Homo sapiens: one gene and its partners. The protein of the gene in region 1 interacts with the protein of each later gene in a pairwise test. Each region holds a gene or a part of one and is shown in the gene's direction. Other genes may lie near its edges.

The links. Proteins that work in one complex are often made in the same cells at the same time.
Region 2: the proteins of PEX13 (region 1) and PIPOX come close enough for resonance energy transfer, tested with the Homo sapiens proteins (one large-scale study listed by BioGRID).
Region 3: the proteins of PEX13 (region 1) and PEX10 come close enough for resonance energy transfer, tested with the Homo sapiens proteins (one large-scale study listed by BioGRID).
Region 4: the proteins of PEX13 (region 1) and ABCD1 come close enough for resonance energy transfer, tested with the Homo sapiens proteins (one large-scale study listed by BioGRID).

What each region holds. Positions count from the first base shown.
Region 1 is NC_000002.12:61,026,731-61,032,288, forward strand, and holds part of PEX13 (peroxisome biogenesis factor 13), read left to right. Parts: intron 1-4,688; coding exon 4,689-5,383; intron 5,384-5,558. UniProt on the Homo sapiens protein: Component of the PEX13-PEX14 docking complex, a translocon channel that specifically mediates the import of peroxisomal cargo proteins bound to PEX5 receptor.
Region 2 is NC_000017.11:29,041,028-29,046,402, forward strand, and holds the start of PIPOX (peroxisomal sarcosine oxidase), read left to right. Parts: upstream 1-2,113; 5' UTR 2,114-2,198; coding exon 2,199-2,312; intron 2,313-3,831; coding exon 3,832-3,980; intron 3,981-5,375. UniProt on the Homo sapiens protein: Metabolizes sarcosine and L-pipecolic acid.
Region 3 is NC_000001.11:2,406,058-2,410,516, reverse strand, and holds part of PEX10 (peroxisome biogenesis factor 10), read left to right. Parts: intron 1-65; coding exon 66-146; intron 147-1,658; coding exon 1,659-2,065; intron 2,066-3,561; coding exon of another isoform or gene 3,562-3,621; coding exon 3,622-3,797; intron 3,798-3,897; coding exon 3,898-4,033; intron 4,034-4,459.
Region 4 is NC_000023.11:153,730,404-153,735,317, forward strand, and holds part of ABCD1 (ATP-binding cassette sub-family D member 1), read left to right. Parts: intron 1-4,448; exon of another isoform or gene 4,449-4,914. UniProt on the Homo sapiens protein: ATP-dependent transporter of the ATP-binding cassette (ABC) family involved in the transport of very long chain fatty acid (VLCFA)-CoA from the cytosol to the peroxisome lumen.

The sequences.
Region 1 (5,558 bases):
TTATTTCATTTCTCTCTCTGATAATTTTTAACATATCTAAAATCATTCCTGAGCTGTTATATAAAATTAGTTTTTTTAAATTGGGTTTTATACTTGCTGATTTTTGTTGGCTTTGTTTCTTAGTGTTTTTATTTCTTCATGTGTGTGGCATTTTTGAGATGGTCATTTTGAGTAGTAATTTTGGAGTTCTGTTTTCTCTCCTTTCCCTCTTCCATGTTCCCCTCTCTCTATCTAATAGGTGTCCTGTTGCCTCTCCCTGTTCCCTCTACCTACCACTTAGGTAAGAATCAGGTGTAAAAACAGTGGGTCAGACTGGGCATGGTGGCTCACACCTGTAATCTTAGCTCTTTGGGAGGCCAAGGCAGGAGGATTGCTTGAGCCCAGGAGTTGGAAACCAGCCTCTCAAGATGTAGCGAGAACCCATTTCTACAAAAAATATCAAAAAGAAAAAAAAAAAAAAAGGCAGGCATGGTGGTGCACGCCTGTAGTCCCAGCTACTTGGGAAGCTGAGGTGGGAGGGATCGCTTGAGCCTAGGAGTTTGAGGTTGCAGTGAGCCGTGATTGCACCACTGAACTCCAGCTTGGGTGACAGAGTGAGACTCTGTCTCAAAAAAAAAAAAAACAAAACACACACACACACACAAAAACAGCGAGTTAGATTAAGGATATCACACATCAAGTCGGTCAGTTGTTTCATTTCCTGGGCTGGAGGCCTTATCACAGTCCTCTCCCTCTCTTAGTTCTGTAACTTTCTCAAAATATTAAACTGTCATCAGCAAATTTTATAATCTCTTTGTAGGAGTCAAGGTGGCACATCCTCATTCCCAGCCTCAAGCATTGAACTGGTTCCATTTTAATGGAGCACTTTTCGTTTTTGTTACTTCATTGAAGCCTGCATCTTGGCTGTCACTGCCTGATTACAGAACCAGAATTGAGTAGGCCCGTAGCTTCAGCCCTCCTTACCATTTTACATTTCTGTTTAGTTTCTCTTCCATAAGTCTGTCTTGTGTTAAATCTAGATAATGTCTGTTTGTTTGTCTCTCTGTTTTCTCTATTATTGCTTATACTTGGGAGCAGAACTGTTTCATTAAAGCCTGAATGCACTGCACTATCTGGCCGTTCACTGGCTCCTTTTAAGTTTTGTTCCATTTTTAAATATCAGATCCAATAAAAGAAAAAAAAATAGAGTTCTAGTAGCTTGTTTATAATATTACGATACAAGTCTAAATTAAAACTTTAGCCTGGATTAGAAAATTACCATTTTGCAGTTCCACATCTAATATTTGTTTCAGGCAAGGATGATGAATCGATGCTAAACTATCAAATGAACAGTTGCTGAGGAATAGAATATTTGTGGTACAAAACTGTCATCCCATAGATTATATACTAATTACAAAGGGAAAGATACATTTTAATGGAAAGATCTAATAGTCACCTCCTTAACCAACTAATCAAATTTAGCTTCACAAATGCGCCTCCTAAAGTAATACTGTGTGAAGTAAACAACATCACTTATGAATTATTCTTGCCAAAAAATATTGAACCTGATTGCAATCAAACCGTTAAATGCAATCTTAATTTAATAGGAGGCGAAATAAGAGTACAAGTTAAACAACACTTGGGGGAAACACAAATCTGGGGGTAGGACATTTCTTTCTTTTCTTTTTTTTTTTTTTTGAAACAGAGTCTCACTGTGTCACCCAGACTGGAGGGCAGTGGCATGATCTCAGCTCACTGCAACAGCCGCCTCTGGGGTTCAAGCGATTCTCCCTCAGCCTCCCGAGTAGCTGGGACTACAGGCACCCACCACCACGTCCGGCTAATTTTTGTATTTTTAGTAGAGACGGGGTTTCACCATGTTGGCCAGGCTGGTCTCGAACTCCTAACCTGAGGGGACCCGCCTGCCTCAGCCTCCCAAAGTGCTGGGATTACAGGCATGAGCCACCATGCCTGGGCTGGGGGTAGGACATTTCTAGAAAAAAACTGGGTTGACTCTTTAGAAGGTCAGGGATATTTGAAAAAATGGGATTGTTCTCATTTAGAAAAGAAAGGAAACAAACCAACCAAATGCAGTGTGTGAGCCTTAATTGAATTTTTGTTCAAAAAAATTTTTAAAGATATTTTTGACTCATGTAGCACAATAATTTAAAAAGCAGTGATAAAAAGGCTAAGCCAAGTACAATGGCTCATGCCTGTAATCCCAGCACTTTGAGAGGTAGAAGTGGAAGGATTGCTTGAACCCAGGTATTTGAGACCAGCCTGGGCAACAAAGTGGGACCCTCATCTCTACCAAAAAGTTAGCCGGGAGTGGTGGTCTCACCTACATAGGAAGCTGAGGCAGAAGGATTACTTGAGCTGTGTTTGCGCTTCTGCACTCCAACCTCAATGACAGAGGGAGACCCTGTCTCCAAAAAAAAAAAAAAAAGAGGGCGAACTTAAAAGTGGGCAAAGTATCTGAATACATATTTTTCCAAATAAGATTGTAAAACGACCAATAAGCACATGAAAATATGCTCAACATCATTAGCCGTCAAGAAAATGCAAATTAAAACCACAGTGAAATACCACCTCACGCCCACTAGGATAGCTATAATGAAAAATATAAGAGCAGATGTGGCCAAGGATGTGGAGAAATTGGAAATCCTCATACATTGGCGAGAATGTAAAATGGTACAGTTGCTTTGGAACACAATCTGGCAGTTCCTCAAAAGGCTAAATATAGAGTTTCCATATAACCCAGCAAACATGTCCGTACAAAAACTTGTACATAAATGGTCATTGCAGCATTATTTGTAATAGCCAAGAAGTAAAAACAGCCCCAATATACATAAGCTGATGTGTGAATAAATATAATTTGGCAATAAAAATTAATGAAATACAGTTGGCCTTCCACATCTGATCAACCAACTGTGGATCAAAAATATTCGGAAAATAGGCCAGACGTGTTGGCTAACACCTGTTATCCTGACATTTTGGGAGGCTGAGGTGGGAGGATCACTTGAGGCCAGGAGTTGGAGGCTGCGGTGAGCTATGATCATGCCACAACACTCTAGCCTGGACAATAGAGTGAGACCCTGTCTCTTAAAAAAAAAAAGTATTCAGAAAAAAAAAAACTGCATCTGTACTGAACATGTACAGACTTTATTCCTTGTCATTATTTCCTAAACACTACAGTATAAGTAATTACATACATTTACAGTGTATTAGATACTATAAGCTAGAGATGATTTTAAGTATACAGGAGGATGTGCATAGGTTATATGCAAATGCTATACTATTTTATATTAAGGACTTGAGCATTCATGGATTTTGGTATCTGAAGGAGATTTTGAAACCACTCCCCCACAGATACCAAGGGCTGCCTGTGCTGATACATGCTATAAAATGGATAAACCCTGGAAACATTATGCTAAGTGAAAGAAGCCAGTCACAAAATACTACGTATTGTATGAGTCCATTTACCATAGATCCTCATTATTTGTGGATTCTGTATTTTCAAATTGGTCTGCTCACTAAAATTTATTTGTAATCTGAAAATCAATATTCCTGGCACTATCACAGTCATTTGAGGACAAACGTACATCAGGTAAAAATCTGAGTTGTCCCTCAGCTGACAACTGAGGGACAACTGAGAGACAAAAAAGCAACACTCTGGTTTCTTATTTCAGCTCTCATGCTGTAAACAGTTGTCTTTATCAAAGTCTGTTTAGTGCCAGGTTTTTTCACATTTTTTTATGGTGATTTTGCTGTCTAAAATGGCCCCCAAGCATAGTGCTGAAGTGATCTCTAGTGTTCCTAAGCACAGGAATGCTGTAGTGTGCCTTACAGAGAAAATACAGGTGTTAGATAAGCTTCATTCAGGCATGGGCTATTGTGCTGTTGGCCATGAGTTGTTAATGAGTTAACAATATACCTGGAATAAAGTGACTTTAAACAGAAACATATAAAATAAGTATATGTATTGATTGGTTGATGAAAGAAGCAGTGATTTGGTATCTGCTGGTTCAGAGTTCACAGCAACTTTACAGGATATAACTATCTTAAATAACAAGAATTAACTATATATGAAATGTCCAGAATAGACAAACCGAGGGACAGAAGGTAGATTCATGGTTGCCAAAGATGGGTGGAGGGGTGGGCAGGAAATGGGGAATAGCTGCTAATGAATATGGGGTTTCTTTTTTGAGGTGATGAAAATCTTCTGAATTAGACATGGTGATAGTTACACACCTCTGTGAGTGTACTAAAACCTATTAAATTTTAAACTTTAAAGTGATGCCTGGGCACAGTGGCTCACACCTGTAATCCCAGCACTTTAGGAAACCAAGGCAGATGGATCGTTTGAGCCCAGGAGTTTGAGACCAGCCTGGGAAACATGGTGAAACCCCATCTCTACAAAAAATATAAAAAATTAGCCAGGTGTGGTGGCATGCACCTGTAGTCCCAACTGCTCAGGAGGCTGAGGTGGGAGGATCACTTGAGCCTGGGAGGTTGAGGCTACAGTGAGCTTTTGATTGTGCTACTACACTCCAGCTTGGGCAACAGAGTGAGACCCTGTCTCTAAATCAATTAATCAGTCTTCAGTAGAATTTGTCATAGCACCAGGTATATAGGAGATGTTTAATACTTACTTTGAATTGAATTTATTGTATGCTTAAATAACTGTTTTGAATCTTTTTTGGTTTTAGATCTGCTGATTTGGGTCCTACTTTAATGACAAGACCTGGACAACCAGCACTTACCAGAGTGCCCCCACCTATTCTTCCAAGGCCATCACAGCAGACAGGAAGTAGCAGTGTGAACACTTTTAGACCTGCTTACAGTTCATTTTCTTCTGGATATGGTGCCTATGGAAATTCATTTTATGGAGGCTATAGTCCTTATAGTTATGGATATAATGGGCTGGGCTACAACCGCCTCCGTGTAGATGATCTTCCACCCAGTAGATTTGTTCAGCAAGCTGAAGAAAGCAGCAGGGGTGCATTTCAGTCCATTGAAAGTATTGTGCATGCATTTGCCTCTGTCAGTATGATGATGGATGCTACCTTTTCAGCTGTCTATAACAGTTTCAGGGCTGTATTGGATGTAGCAAATCACTTTTCCCGATTGAAAATACACTTTACAAAAGTGTTTTCAGCTTTTGCATTGGTTAGGACTATACGGTATCTTTACAGACGGCTACAGCGGATGTTAGGTTTAAGAAGAGGCTCTGAGAATGAAGACCTCTGGGCAGAGAGTGAAGGAACTGTGGCATGCCTTGGTGCTGAGGACCGAGCAGCTACCTCAGCAAAATCTTGGCCAATATTCTTGTTCTTTGCTGTTATCCTTGGTGGTCCTTACCTCATTTGGAAACTATTGTCTACTCACAGTGATGAAGTAACAGGTAAGAGAACTGTAAGGGAACAGGTTCAGATACCATATAACAATCTCAAATTTCAAGAATAGATTTGTTAGTTTTCTTTATATTGATTTGTATTTACTGTTTCCAGTTATATTTTCAGTTAAGAGCTTCAAAACTGGCAGAGGAATATATAGCAAAAATAGGCTTGCTGATTAGT
Region 2 (5,375 bases), on another chromosome or scaffold:
TCTTCAGCCATTAAGTAATATTTTGGTTATGGCTGTGTAAAAAACCTCCCCAAAATGTTGTGGCTGAAAACAACAACCATTTTATTCTGTTTCATGGTTTTGTGGATCAGGAATGAAGCTTGACTGGGTGATTCTTCTGCACTATGCAGCATCAATTGGGTCACTTGGTACTATTTGGCTGGTGCTAGGCTGGGCTGGAGGAACCAAGATGACTTCACTTTTCTTTGAGACAAGGTCTTGCTATGTTGCACAGGTTTGTCTGGAACTCCTGGCCTCAAGCGATCCTTCCTGACTCAGCCTCCCAAACCAAGATAACTTCATTCTTATATAGAGTTCTCCACCTGGTCCCAGGTCCTCTCCATGTGAACTCTCCCATAGGGTGCCTGCACTTCTAACATGGTGGCTCAGGGCTCAGAGAGTAAGGGCTCCTTGGCCAGGTGCGGTGGCTCATGCCTGTAACCCCAGCACTTTGGGAGGCCGAGGTGGTCGGATCATGAGGTCAGGAGTTCGAGACCAGCCTGGCCAATATGGTGAAACCCCGTCTCTACTAAAAATATGAAAAATTAGCTGGGTGTAGTGGCGCTCGCCTGTAGGCCCAGCTACTCGGGAAGCTGAGGCAGAAGAATCGCTTGAACCCACGAGTCAGAGGTTGCAGTGAGCCAAGATAGTGCCACTGCTCTCCTGCCTGGATGACAAAACGAGACTCCCTCTCAAAAAAAAAAAAAAAGTAAGGGCTCCAACATAAGAAGAGGAAGCTGCCAGTCTCTTTAGGGCTGTGCCAGAAAGTGTCATGGTATCACTTTTGCCATATTTTATGGGTCAAGCAGTCACAGAGTCTGTGATAGAAGGAGTGAAAAAGAATTTGGGGCCATCCTTAATCTGCCAAAAGTAGGCATAAAAATACTCCTAAGCCAGGTGCAGTGTCTCACACCTGTAATCCAAGCTTTTGGGAGGATGAGGTGGGAGGATTGTATGAGTCCAGGAGTTCGAGACCAGCCTGAGCAACACAGTGAGCCCTCGTCTCTACAAAAAATAAACAAAATTAGCTGAGCATGGTGGCATGCGTTTGTAGTTTCAGCTACTCGGGCGGCTGAGGTAGGAGGACCCCTTGAGCCCAGGAAGTGGAGGCTACAGTGAGCCGAGTTCGTGCCACTGCACTCCAGCCTGCGTGACAGTGAGATCCCAGAGATCCTCTCAAAAACCAAAACTTCAAAAACAAAAACCCGCAGAAACTCCTAGGGCTATGAGGAGTAAATGAGATAACTCATGCAGAGGCAAATTTACCATGAAGCAAATGAAACTTCAACCATGGGGGTCCTTAATTGAACAGTTTCTTCCACATCCGGGCATCTAATTTTGTATTAATAATTCTCCTTTTTTCTTTTTCTCAAAGAGTACCCTCGAACTGTATGACAATCAAGCCCTACCCAAATGCCAGTATCAGTACTTACTAAGCATACTGCCTGGGACAGAGAGATGCTCAACACGGGGCCCCTCCAGGCACTGGGCTGGCCTGGTCCCCTCTCTGTGGCTGAGGAGAGGGCTCCTCCTCTCACTCTGCCCTTTCTGTCTTTTCAGGATCATTTCTTCTTTCTTCAAAATGAAAGTAAAACATGCTGGGAATAATTTCATAATTACAAAACTGCCCTCCCAATTGGCCCCTGCCTCTACCCCCTGACCTCACCACCCACCAGGGAGGTGGGTCTTATTCTGGGCATCGTGCCAAGTTCTTAGCGGGGCCCTCTAGAATCTCTAAAGCAAATCAGGCTGAAGAGGGGAAAACCAGCAGGGGGAGGCAGCATTCCCGGTGCCCAGTATGGTCTAGGAGGCATTGAAATTCCAGGGCCGAAGTCCTGAGACAAAGATCATAATGAGACAGGAAGGTGGCAAAGGAAGGAGCCCATTTGCATGACAATAATTGAGCCAAGAATAGAAAGCCACAGGGATGCAAGGGTGAGGCTGGCGGCTGAGCTGGGCTAAACCTCACAAATCAGACTACCCAGCTCTGCTCCGCAGGGGAAGGGAGACTGAGCCCTGGGCCAGGCTTGGCAGAGAGGGAAGCGGGAGGACACGACCCCAGGGCATTGTGGGAACACTGGCCAGGCTGGACTTTGCCTTCCTCCTCGTCCTTTAGCCGGGAGCCTGTCTTTGCTTGCCTTTGCCTTTGAGGCTCTGTGGCTGTGGGGCTGAGTGGCATCATGGCGGCTCAGAAAGATCTCTGGGACGCCATTGTGATTGGGGCGGGGATCCAGGGCTGCTTCACTGCATACCACCTGGCCAAACACAGGAAGAGGATCCTCCTGCTGGAGCAGGTACTGTGTCCCTTCTGCACCCCCAGCTGTAAGGACTGTCCTACCCTCCTCCCCTGCAGAAGGGTTTTCAGAGCCAGCAGGCTACAGGGCAAGGCCAAAGGGACTGAATCATCAAAAATTCTGTGTAATTTGTATCTTAGCTGCCTAGTGTGTTTCATGGCAATTCAAAGAAGTTTCACATCCCTCATACCCACATTGGGTTTCTAGGCACATTTCCTCTTTCTACTGCTTCCCAGTTCCTGCCCTTGACCAAGCGTCCTAGGCCCTGTTCTCTTCCTTCTCACTACTCTTTCCCTTCTGTGCCCAAATGGTTGATCCCCACCCCAGAAAAATAATTGGTTCTGCTCTAGGTAACCTAAAGTAAAGATAATTTTGCCTAGAGGCAAAGGTTGATTTATCAGCCTAAGAGGTAGGATTCTGTCTTGCATATTCCTGGCCTCTCACACCAGAACCCAGCAGAAGCTTCTGTTTTTTTTTTTTATTTTTTATTTTTTGCCACCTCCAGATAATAGCAGCCTCCTTGTTTGACACATGATAAGTGAGACTGAGGCCTTATTTTTCCTGCTACGCAGTGCAGTCTGCAGTGACCACTGCATATGTGGGTGGGCCCTGTGTGTCTGCAGGGTCCTTCGAGGACAGGGCCACCCAGCTATCCACTGCAGTGGACTCTCCCTTTCCATTCTGCCTGCAGCTACCCAGGCTGGCTATGGTTTGCTCTTCTTGGTAATGAGCCAGAGTAGTTAGAAACCTTCTTCATTTCTCTATCAGTTTTCTCAAAGCCCAAGGGATTCCTGGTTCATCCTCTCAGGAAACTCATTGTTGCTGAATCCTGAGGTGGTTCTCTTACCCTGAGTGATCTGTAGCCACAGAGAAATAAAGTCAGCATCAGTTTCCTTGTTCATAAAATGAAGGGGCTGGAGTAGTTGAACTGGAAGGTTTTTTCTAATTTTGCTTCTTTGTGAATCTAAGTGAGGTGAGATTGCAGCAGGATGGTTGAAGACTAGCTAACAAAAGAACTTCTGGATGTGAACAACGTTAGCAAAAAGGAAGCCTAAGTTAGTGCTATTGAAGAACTTCTATCTTGATTGCCAAGTCAGTAAATTGGTCATAAAGAGAGAATTTGGAAAGATTGTGTGAATTTTTTTTTGTGGGGGGACAGGATCTCACTCTATTGCACGGGCTGGAGTGCAGTGGTACTATCATAGTTCACTACAGCCTCAAACTCCTGGGCTCAAACAGTCCTCCTACCTCAGCCTTCCAAGTAGCTGGGACTACAAGTGCCACCACACCTGATAGTTTTTAAATTTTTGAGAAGACTGGGTCTTGCTATATTGCCTAAGCTGGTCTTGAATTCCTGGGCTCAAATTATCTTCCTGTGCATAATCCTTCCCCAGATTGTGTGGAAATATTTGAAGGATAAATGGCTCCTGGTTGACAGCACATGCTGATATGGCTCTTAACAGGGGATGCAGTGTGAGGGGTAATGGCTTCCATCATCTCTCTTGTTTTCCACTTCCAGTTCTTTCTACCACACTCCCGAGGAAGCTCCCATGGACAAAGCCGGATAATCCGAAAGGCGTACCTGGAAGACTTTTACACCCGGATGATGCATGAGTGCTATCAGATATGGGCCCAGCTGGAGCACGAGGCTGGAACCCAATTGCACAGGTGGGCTGTGGGAGGAATTCCTTGAATCGTGGGGCTCTGCACCTGCAGGTACTTTTAGTGTGTGAAGTGGCAGCGCCATGGAACATTTGGAATGCAATGGGAGGGACACAAGGCCTCAAGAAGTACCAGATGCATGGAAGAGTTCTGCTGTCATGGTGGTCACCCCACAGGTCCAGCTGACTCTGGCCAGGCTCTGCGTTGCAGGACTGGGTTCAGACCATGTGTCCAAGGCTAGCAGAAGCAGTACTGGAAAGCCTGCTGGCAAGGCACCGTGTGGCAGATGCCCAGAGTGGACAGGAGTCTGCTGGAGTGTGTATTTTCAACTCTGTGGAGGCCTCTGCAACTCTTTTAGGGCAGGGGTTGAGATAGAGGAGGAGGCTGCTTTCAGGAGGATTCTTTTTTTTTTTTTTTTTTTTTTTTTTTTGACAGAGTCTCGCTTTTTTGTCAGGCTGGAGTGTAGTGGCGCCATCTTGGCTCACTGCAACCTCCACCTCCCGGGTTCAAGTGATTCTTCTGCTTCAGCCTCCCGGGCAGCTGGGACTACAGGTGCGCACCACCACACCCAGCTAATTTTTGTATTTTTAGTAGAGACAGGGTTTCACCATGTTGGCCAGGATGGTCTTGATCTCTCGACCTCATGATCTGCCCTTCTCGGCCCCCCTAAGTACTGGGATTACAGGTGTGAGCCACCGTGCCTGGCCCAGGATTCTTTATAGTCAAATCAACATCCTAACTTTTCCTGAGGGGTCCTCACCCCCTTTAGCAGCCCTATAAACCCATTTTGTTCTCTCTGAGTACCTTTTCCTGTAGGAACAAAATGGGGACGTTCCCCAGGCTGGATTGCTTGCCAGGGAGTGAGCCTCCACGTCTTTCTCTGCTGCCTTCATGGCTCTCTCCAACCCTTGACCTTTCAAACACTCATGGGAAAGAAAGCCAATAATCTGTGATGCAATGGGAACTTTAACCATCCCACCTCCCTCCCACCTCCTCTGTGACTCTTAACTGAACTTCCTACAAACCCTGGCTCTACCTGATAGGGTGGTGGTTATTTTAATGGCCAGGAACCAAGAGGTTAGTGTTCTGTTGCAAAAATACCATTAACTTAAGAACAAAGTGAAATCCATTATGCAAATCAGCCAGGGCAGCTAATTACAGATTTATTCAGAGGCAGCTAATGCACCCAGCACCCAAATAAAGGAGCATGTCTTGCTGGTGGGTGGCCCGGCAGAGGGACCCCTCTCTGTCAGTTGTCTGTGAATACTGCTGAGCATCTTTTGCTAAAAGAATCGCCCTGGGCCTCAGAGGGCACACTTCCTCCTAGCACACAATGAGGCAACTAAGAGACGTTAGAGTGTCTGGAATCTTTCCGAGGGAGACGATTCTGGAGTGAGACAG
Region 3 (4,459 bases), on another chromosome or scaffold:
TGTGGTCCCTCATCCTCAGAGGATGCCCACCAGCTCCCCCGGACTAATACTGTTTCTCCTCTCAGGTGCGAGGAAGTGGCTGGAGTGGAGGAAGGAGGTTGAGCTGCTCTCAGATGTGGCCTACTTTGGCCTCACCACACTTGCAGGTAGAAGCTCCCACGGGACCTCAGGACTGAGGGCAGCCACACACACCAAGTCTGGGGACGGTGGCCAGGGGGCTGCCAGGCAGTGTGAGAAGCTCCTGGAGCTGGCCCGGGTGAGGTTGCTTCAGGGAAGTGCAGGAGGTACTGCTCCGAGGGAGGCGAGGCATCTGCTCCCAGCAGGGAGCCGACTTTTCCAGCCTTTGTGTGTCCCTGGGGTTCTTTGTTTAAGACTTTACCCCGGGTGCCACTGAGACCCATTTCTCAGTGGCCAGCCCTGGTGGCACCAGTGAGTCACAGTGCTGAGCCATGTCATAGGGTGCAGTGCCCGTGTGACAGTGCCCTGGTGGAGCAGTGGTGGGTCTGTGGCCCAGGCTGGTCACCACCCTTTAGAGGGAGTTGTTGACAGAAGCTCTCAGGCTCCCAACCCCAGCTCAGCATGTAGCAAGGACCACCGAGTGCCAGCCTGGTTCCCTACGAGGGGCTCGCCCCGGGCATCCTGCCGCCATGGAGAGTGTGCTCGGTGGGCGGGAGACAGATGTGGCTGCGTCACAGAGCATCTTGGGAAGTGAGGGGCTCTCAGAGATAAAGACCACGTCTTAGGGAAGAGCATTTTCCAGACCGGCAGAGCAAGCAGCCGGGAAAGGCCCTGAGAAGAACACGTCCTTGGCGGTTTGGGAGAATGACCCCGGGGGGCTCGTGAGTTTTGTAAGCCCATAGCTTTCCCTGTGCGAGGCTTGGGGCATTCCAGGGACGTGGGCAGGGGAGAGGCCGACCACTAGCTAAGACCAGACCTCAGGGGACAAAGTTGGGCTCAGGGAGACTACAGAGGCTGTGACAGTCCCCCACAGGATGGTGGTGGTACAGAGCAGGGGCGGCAGCGAGGGGGTGGAACACACAGGGAAGGTGCATGCAGGGTGCCCCTTGGGCTTGACCTCAGGAACCGGAGGCCTGGCGTTGCCATCCACAGAGATGGAAACGGGGAGCAGGCTTTTCTGGGTGGGGGCGCTGAAAGCTGTCTCGGCAGGGGTGGAATTGGGGTGCTCATCTGAGCATACATGGCGATGTCAGGTAGGTGGCGGACCTGCATGGCTGGCACTCACAAGTAAGGTCCAGGCTGGGCATAAATCGGGTGGTGCCAGCTGTGTGGTTGGTGGAGAGCCATGGGACTGGATCCGAGTGCTTGGGCTGGGGGAGGTGGCGGGGACAGCTAGGGAGAAAGGGGAAAGAGCAGAGACTCTTGGGGAGAAGCCAAGAGAGGGAGGGACACTGGCCAGCCAAGGCCCTGGGAGCCAAGGGCAGCCATTGGCCGGGCCTGTCATGTGCTGCCTGAGCTCACAGTGGGCTTAGCGACAGAAGGTCATGTTGGCCTCAGCCAGCACGGGGTGACAGTGGGCTCAAGGGCGACAAGATGGGGCTGTTGACAGGAGCCAGCAGAGGGTCGGCTGGCAGGGGCGCCGGGAGCCTGTCCCCGCGGCAGCAGTCTCAGGGTCCACATACCCATCCTCTTCCTCGCAGGCTACCAGACCCTGGGGGAGGAGTACGTCAGCATCATCCAGGTGGACCCATCGCGGATACATGTGCCCTCCTCGCTGCGCCGTGGCGTGCTGGTGACACTGCATGCCGTCCTGCCCTACCTGCTGGACAAGGCCCTGCTCCCCCTGGAGCAGGAGCTGCAGGCTGACCCCGACAGTGGGCGACCCTTGCAGGGGAGCCTGGGGCCAGGTGGGCGTGGCTGCTCAGGGGCGCGGCGCTGGATGCGTCACCACACGGCCACCCTGACTGAGCAGCAGAGGAGGGCGCTGCTGCGGGCGGTCTTCGTCCTCAGACAGGGCCTCGCCTGCCTCCAGCGGCTACATGTTGCCTGGTTTTACATCCACGGTGTCTTCTACCACCTGGCCAAGAGGCTCACGGGGATCACGTACGTAAGTAGCAGGCGCTGAGGGCACAGCTGCTTAGGCCGTCCTTGTCACCCCCACTGGACTTGGGTGCATGCACAGAGCTGGCCCTCCAGGCCTCTCAGCCAACAGGGTTCTACATCCAGCATCTGTGTCAAGGCAGGAACCCAAATCCTCTGCTTGGAAAAAAAGCAGATTTTGTTTAATTACACTTGGCTGAAAGATCCAAGGAAGTCCAGACCCTAAGTGTAGAATGAACTCCTGCTGCAGCCCCTCATGGACACCGGGCCCTGCGCTTAGCTCTTTACTGACCGGGGGGCCCCGGGTCACGCCTCACCACAGATCCCTGAACCTGGGCCCGTGACTGCCTATGTCACTGCTGTGGGGAACAAACAGCTTCTCCCAGACAGTGTGGGAGCATGGACTGCAGCCCCGGCCCCAGCCCCTCACCCCTCGCCCCTGCCTGGCCCAGCAGTCTGCCCCATCAGACGGCCGTTCCCACCTTCTCCCCTCCACAGCCGTTGGCACCTCTGCCTATCCTGACCCCCAGCTGATGCCCCTGCTTCCAGATTCAGCAACGAAGCCTCCCCCGTGGTCCCACCACCATGTCCACCTGCCACAGCGTTAGTCCCTGGCCCACCAGAGCCACTACTGCATGAGCTCCTTCCAGAACAGCCCTCTGAGGAACCCCCTTCCTTTTGTCCCTAGAGCTGCACTGGTCCCCTCAGCCCCTACTTGCCAGGCAACCCCGCCTCCACACACACCCTAAACAGGAGGCCACCGTGACCTCGTCGCAGAGCCAATGGTCAGGTCTTCGTCCTCAGCGTACCCAGCCTCACTTGCGTATTTGATGTGGTTTCTTGCCCCGTCCATGTTGGTGAGGGATTTGATGAGCTGCTGTGACAGGGGCATGGAAGTGGGGCTCAAACCAGATGGGAGGCTCCCTCTCTCCTAGGACAGCCAGGAAGTGGCTGGACACCCAGGGCCCATGCTGGCGGTGTGACCTGCCACCTCTGTATGTGGTTCCCGGCCCTGGGCCGAGGCTGTCTGGCTGTCTCCATTTCCCAGCCAGTGGAAAGTGACACGGGAAGCCGAGGGCAGCCAGCTGTCCTTCAGTGGCACGGTCAGAAGCTACCTGTGTCACCAGCAGGAGGGTGGCAGCAGTGTCCCTGGGGCCACGTGCCTTGTTACACTGGGGCTTCGGTCCCTGTAGCAGGGTAGCTGGTGGGCAGCGTCTGCAGCCCCACATTTCCGCTCCCCGCCTCCTTTTCTGAGAGGTGGTCCCTGGACATCCCCACATCCTCACCTGCTCTGCCAGCCTCATAGCTAAGACTCTTTCTGCACTGGTAATGCCAAGGCTGGTCTGGAGCTCAGGCCTCTCCGTCATGCTAGGCTACGAAGCAGGCACCTCAGACTCCCTGAACCTGCCCCCTGGCTTGATCGTTTCTGCCGGGCACTCCCCATGCCAGTGAGAGGCCTGGTTCTAACGTGCTCTGTGCCAACTGAACGTGTGACCCTCCCAGCAGGCGCTGAGGCCAGATCCCCTCAGGGTCCTGATGAGTGTGGCGCCATCTGCCTTACAGCTCCGTGTCCGCAGCCTGCCCGGAGAGGACCTGAGGGCCCGTGTTAGCTACAGGCTGCTGGGGGTCATCTCACTGCTGCACCTGGTGCTGTCCATGGGGCTGCAGCTGTACGGTTTCAGGCAGCGGCAGCGAGCCAGGAAGGAGTGGAGGCTGCACCGCGGCCTGTCTCACCGCAGGTGCGTGCGGGGGCCACACATGGGGGCTGGGGGTGTCCTGGGCACTTCACAAGGACCTGTAAGGTGCACCCACCTTGACGCTCTGCCCCACCTTCCCCAGGGCCTCCTTGGAGGAGAGAGCCGTTTCCAGAAACCCCCTGTGCACCCTGTGCCTGGAGGAGCGCAGGCACCCAACAGCCACGCCCTGCGGCCACCTGTTCTGCTGGGAGTGCATCACCGCGTGGTGCAGCAGCAAGGTGAGGTGGGAGCCTGCTGCCGTCCTGGGGTGGTCAGCGGCTGTGCCGGCAAGATGCACCTGGCTGCAGCAGAAGTGGGGAGTCTGGCTCTGAGCACCCTCCAGTTTTGAGGGTACAGAGGTGGGCATCTTTTTAAAGGCTCCCAGGTAGGTCAGATGTGGGTTCGTTGAGGGGGTTAAAGTTCCAAATTCACGTGTATTGAGGCTTTGCCGAATGCAGGTTGGGGTAGTGGCCAGCCCTGAAAGGCCCCACGCTTGCACCACGCATCCCAGCACACCCTTCCTCCCGGGGTCCTCACCACACTTGAAAACCCTAGCACACTGACTCACACCCACCGAAGATGCCGGCAGGGTGAGAGCGCACGCTTTCCCAGGAGCTGGGCTTCGTGGGCTGTGTCAGCTGCGGGAGCAGGAGGGAACCTCCCGG
Region 4 (4,914 bases), on another chromosome or scaffold:
AACAGGGTGAAACCCCATCTCTACTAAAAATACAAAAATTTAGCCGGGCGCGGTGGCGGGCGCCTATAGTCCCAGCTACTCGGGACGCTGAGGCAGAAGAATGGCGTGAACCCGGGAGGCGGAGCTGGCAGTGAGCCCAGATAGCGCCACTGCACTCCAGCCTGGGCGAAAGAACGAGACTTCGTCTCAAATAAAAATAAAAATAAAAAATAAAAGATCAACACGCATACTTGTTAGGTTAATCAATAGCTCCGCCTTCTCCTGGACCTTAGAACGCAGAAGCAGCCCCGTGGGGCATGGCATCATAGCCCAGCCAAGAGTTGGATTTGTACCTAGTTTTTCCTCTTTGCTATCGCCTTATCCACACGTGTTGAAACTCACTCGCATGTTTGCTGAGTTCTGTGCTCACCATTTCGTTCCTACATCTCAATTTCTCTTCTATGTTCTGTTATCTTCCTCCAGATAGACATGTTTTTAGTTTTTTGTTTGTTTGTTTTTTAACTCACAACTATGCTCAGGACAAACAGTCATCAGTGCTTCTAGTTGTGGTTGGTTTTTAAAAAAGGTTCTTTCAGCAAGGGTTTTGTCATGGGAAATTCTTGATTATTTTATTGTAATTCTTTGTGTTGTTTAGTTTTTTGTTTGTTTGTTTGTTTTTTGTAGAGGCAGGTTCTCGCTGTGTTGCCCAGGCTAGTGTGGAACTCCTGGGCTCAAGCGGTCCTCCCGCATTAGCCTCTCAAAGTGCTGGGATTACAGACGTGAGCCACCACACCCAGGCTGTTGTCATTCTTGATTATTTTTGTTGAAAATGTTTCTATTTCACCCTTATTCCCAAGCTAAAGTTGAGTTGCGCAATGGAGTCTAGGTGGACTGTTCTTTTCTCTCAGCCCTTTCACAATGTCTCATTGTCTCCCTGCTTCTTCTGTAGCTGCTGACAAATCTGTAGCTGCTAACAAATTGTCCTCCCTGAGTACCCTGTGTTTCTTTTTTTCTGGGTACTTTGATCACTTTCTTTCTTTTTGGCATTCTGCAGTTTCACTATGACATGTTTAGGTGTCAGTTTTTGTTGATTCTGCTTGAGACTTGTTATATGTCCTTTGAATATTTGAGTTTTTCAATCATTCTGGAAGATTCTCAGCTATTAGCTTTTCAGATATTGCCTGACTCTCATTCTTTTTTCCTGTTCTTCTAGAACTGGCAGCCAGTGCTGGACTTCTGACTCTCTTCGTTGTGTCTTTCGGTTTCTGTTTACTGTTTCCCATCTCACACTGTCTGTGCTGAATTCTGGGGATGCCCTGAGGCCTTCCTGTTTGCTCATTTTCCAGTTCACCAGTTTTCTCTTTGGCCATGTCTAATTGGAATTTTGTTCACATTTCAGTGGCTGTTTTGTAAGTTCTATTTCATTCTATTTCAAATAGGAATTTGAAAATGGACATTTCCTTTTTCAAGTAGAAATGTCAGGCTGTTTCTGTGTCTTATTTGCTCATCTTTTTGACTGCTCCTTTTATACTGTGTATCAGGTTAGTCATACTTACCCCACCGTCTCTATCTGATGGTTTGGTTAGCTTCAGTTCTTGGGAGTATCATTCGCCTGTCTTCTGTCTGCTGGTCTTCACTCATGGTGGATCATTTCCTTGTGGGTTTTGCAACAGAACTTCTATGGGGATTGGTGTGGCCTCAATGGAGGGTGTAAGTCCAAATGTCCTTCTGTTTTGGCCAAGCACTCCAGGGTAAGCAGTTGGAGGCCATTAGTTAGTGCGGAGGGGATGGTTCCTGAATTGAGAGGTGGTTTCATTTGAATTCATTTGAACTCCAGGCACATTGTTACAAATTTTCAGAGGAGGCTTTTTGTTCATTGGGCATAGAGCCCAGGCTAAGCAAGGAAAGCTTCCTGGTCTTTGCCCTGCCTGCCTCTGGGGCTATCAAAGGATCACCTGGCTGTCTGCTTCTCTTTGCTCCCAGAAGTTTCCCTTGCTTTCCGTCAAGCTTGGCTCTGCTCGAAATAGTGTCGTAGTTTACCCAGTTTGGTGGGAAGAGGGTTTTCGATTTATAAACAGAAGTCTGATTCTCTCCCTGTTCCTGTTTCCACCTCGGGGCTTCCATGCCCTCAACTGTCTGTGTCATCCTCTGGGTGACTCACCAAGAGGAAGGATCTAATTCGGGGACTGCACATCAAGGGCAGCCTTGATGCTGGCGTAGGTGCCCAGCCCAGTCAGCGCACCTAGCCCCGGGCACCGAGACAGCCCGCGAGACAGCACCTGCAGCCGCTTCGCTCCATGGCTGCCATTGGTCACATCGGGCTGCTCCCTGCCCTGAAGGCTTAGGACTTTTCTGAGCCTCTGCTGTGCCAGGCTTTGTGGGCTCCTGGCCCTGCTCTGGTGGTCCTCAGAGCCAGCAGCCTTTGAAGGCTGTGAAGCATTCCCTTTCCCCTGGCTTGATAGGCTCTGTCCTGTGGCCGTCTGTTTTTTTTTGGAGGGGGAGCTTTTGAGATGGAGTCTCACTCTGTCTCCCAGGCTGGAGTGCAGTGGCACGATCTTGGCTCACTGCAACCTCCATCTCCCGGGTTCAAGTGATTCTCCTGCCTCAGCCTCCCAAGTAGCTGGGACTACAGGTACACGCCACCATGCCTGGCTAATTTTTGTGTTTTTAGTAGAGATGGGGTTTCGCCATGTTGGTCAGGCTGGTCTTGAACTCCTGACCTCAAGTGATCCACCTGCCTCGGCCTCCCAAAGTGCTGGGATTATAGGTGTGAGCCACTGTGCCTGGTCCTGTGGCCTTCTTATTTCCCCAAATGCCAGGCCTGCTCTGTCTTGGGGCCTGTGCCAGGAGCACTCTTTCCTCTGCTGCCCCATGGCGCAGCCCCCCTAGGCAAGGCCCGGCCTGCCCACCGCCACCTTTCCTGTCTCCTTCCCTGCCCCACTGCTCTCCCAAGCACTCGACACCCCGTCAGTGGCGCTTTTCTCTCTCCCTGCCATGGACTGCAAGCTCCATGGGGTCAGGGATTTTTGTCTGTTTTGTCCCTGCTGTGTCCCCTGCATCGGGTGGCTAGTGAGGGCTCCAGGTGCTTCAAGGAGGTGGAGCGCACTGGGTGGGAAGGCAGGCTCTTACCGGTTGGAAGATTTAGATAAGCTTTGCTGGGCTGGTGTGCAAGGCAGGTGGGCTCAGGAGATGGGCAGGGCCTGTGGCTCCCACTCCAGCCCTGAGGCCTTGCTCTGTCCAGCTCTGGGGCCCTGGCCTTATTCACCCAAGGCTCCAAGAGAACCTGCAGAAGGCAGCTGGTTCTACGCCAGGATGCCCTGGGCACAAAGACTTGCAGACCCTTCCCTTTGTCCACAGCGACTGTCCAGCTCTCAGAACACCTGGGGAGGAGGGCTGTGTCCTTGAGAGCACCGTGGGAAGGAAGGTCCAAGGCCTTCGACCTTTAGGATTCACATCCCCGCCCCGCCAGCCCAATCTAGTTCCCTGGTTTCCCGGGCCAGGCCCCTTTCCACCCTGCATGGCCCTGAGCGGATACTGCGTTCCGTGTCTTCCCCCAGCCCCCAGCCAATGATCCCTGAGGCTTCCCCCTCAGGATCACACCCACCCCTGGATACAGTCCTCGGGTCCTTCACAGGACATTCCCACCACTTCAGCCACACCCCAGCACCCTCAGAGGCGGCCTTCGCCCTTGCTCCCCACCTCTGCTCCTGTGGGGAATCTAAGGATCAAGAAACTGAGAGTCAAGGCCATTGATGAGGGTCAGGGGTGCTGCCACGGGGCCTAGAGTGTGACAGAAAAGCAAATTAAGACAGGAGCAGCTCCTGGGAGAAGCAGACACCAAACAATACGGCTGCTGGCCCAGAGGTCAAAAACCATGGCCTAGAGGGGGCGGTCAGGAAGTGGGACATTAGGCCGGGCGTGGTGGCCCATGCCTGCAATCCCAGCATCTTTGGAGGCCAAGGCAAGTGGATCACCTGAGTTCAGGAGTTTGAGACCAGCCTGGCCAACATGGTGAGACTTCGTCTCTACTAAAAATACAAAAAAAATTCGCTGGGCTTGGTGGCGGGTGCCTGTAATCCCAGCTACTCGGGAGGCTGAGGCACAAGAATCCCTTGAACCTGGGGAGGCAGAGGTTGCAGTGAGCCAAGATCACACCACTGCACTCCAGCCTGGGCAACAGAGCAAGACTCCATCTCAAAAAAAAGAAAAGAAAAAAAAAAGAAAGTTGGCGTTTCAAAGCCAAACAGCTCTGGGCGTTGGATGACAAAGTTCAGATGTGCCCCAGGAGGGGCGACATCAGTGGTGCAGGACAGAGGGCCGGTGGAAGGAGCTGGCTGTACGTAGAAACAAAACCAGATGCCTACTGGTGCATTTAAAAATCAACGTTATTGAGACGTAATTAACATACTATACAATTCTTCCTTTTCCATGTACAGTTTAAATTCATTCACAGAGTTGTGCAGCCATCATCACTAACTCCAGAATGTTTTATTTTTATTTTATCCCCCAAAGAAACCCCAGACCCATGAACAGTCACTCCTCATTCCCTCTCTCCAGCCCCTGGCACCCACTCATCTGCTTCCTGTCTCTGTGGATTTGCCTATCTGGACATGTCCTAGAAATGGAATCATGTGCTCTGTGGCATTTTGTGACTAGCTTCCTTCACTGAGCATCATGGTTTCAAGATTCGTCCATGTCATAAGATGAATCAGTCCTTCATTCCTTTTCATGGCTGAATAATATTCCATTGTGTGCATAGACCACAATTTCTTTATCCATTCATCCCTTGATGGACATTTTGGGTTTCTTCATGTTTTGGCTATTGTGAATAACACTGCTGTGAACATCCATGGACAAGTCTCTATGTGTGCAGATATTTTCGTTTCTCCTGGGTGTGTAGCTAGGAGTAGAATTGCCAGGTCACATGGTAACTGG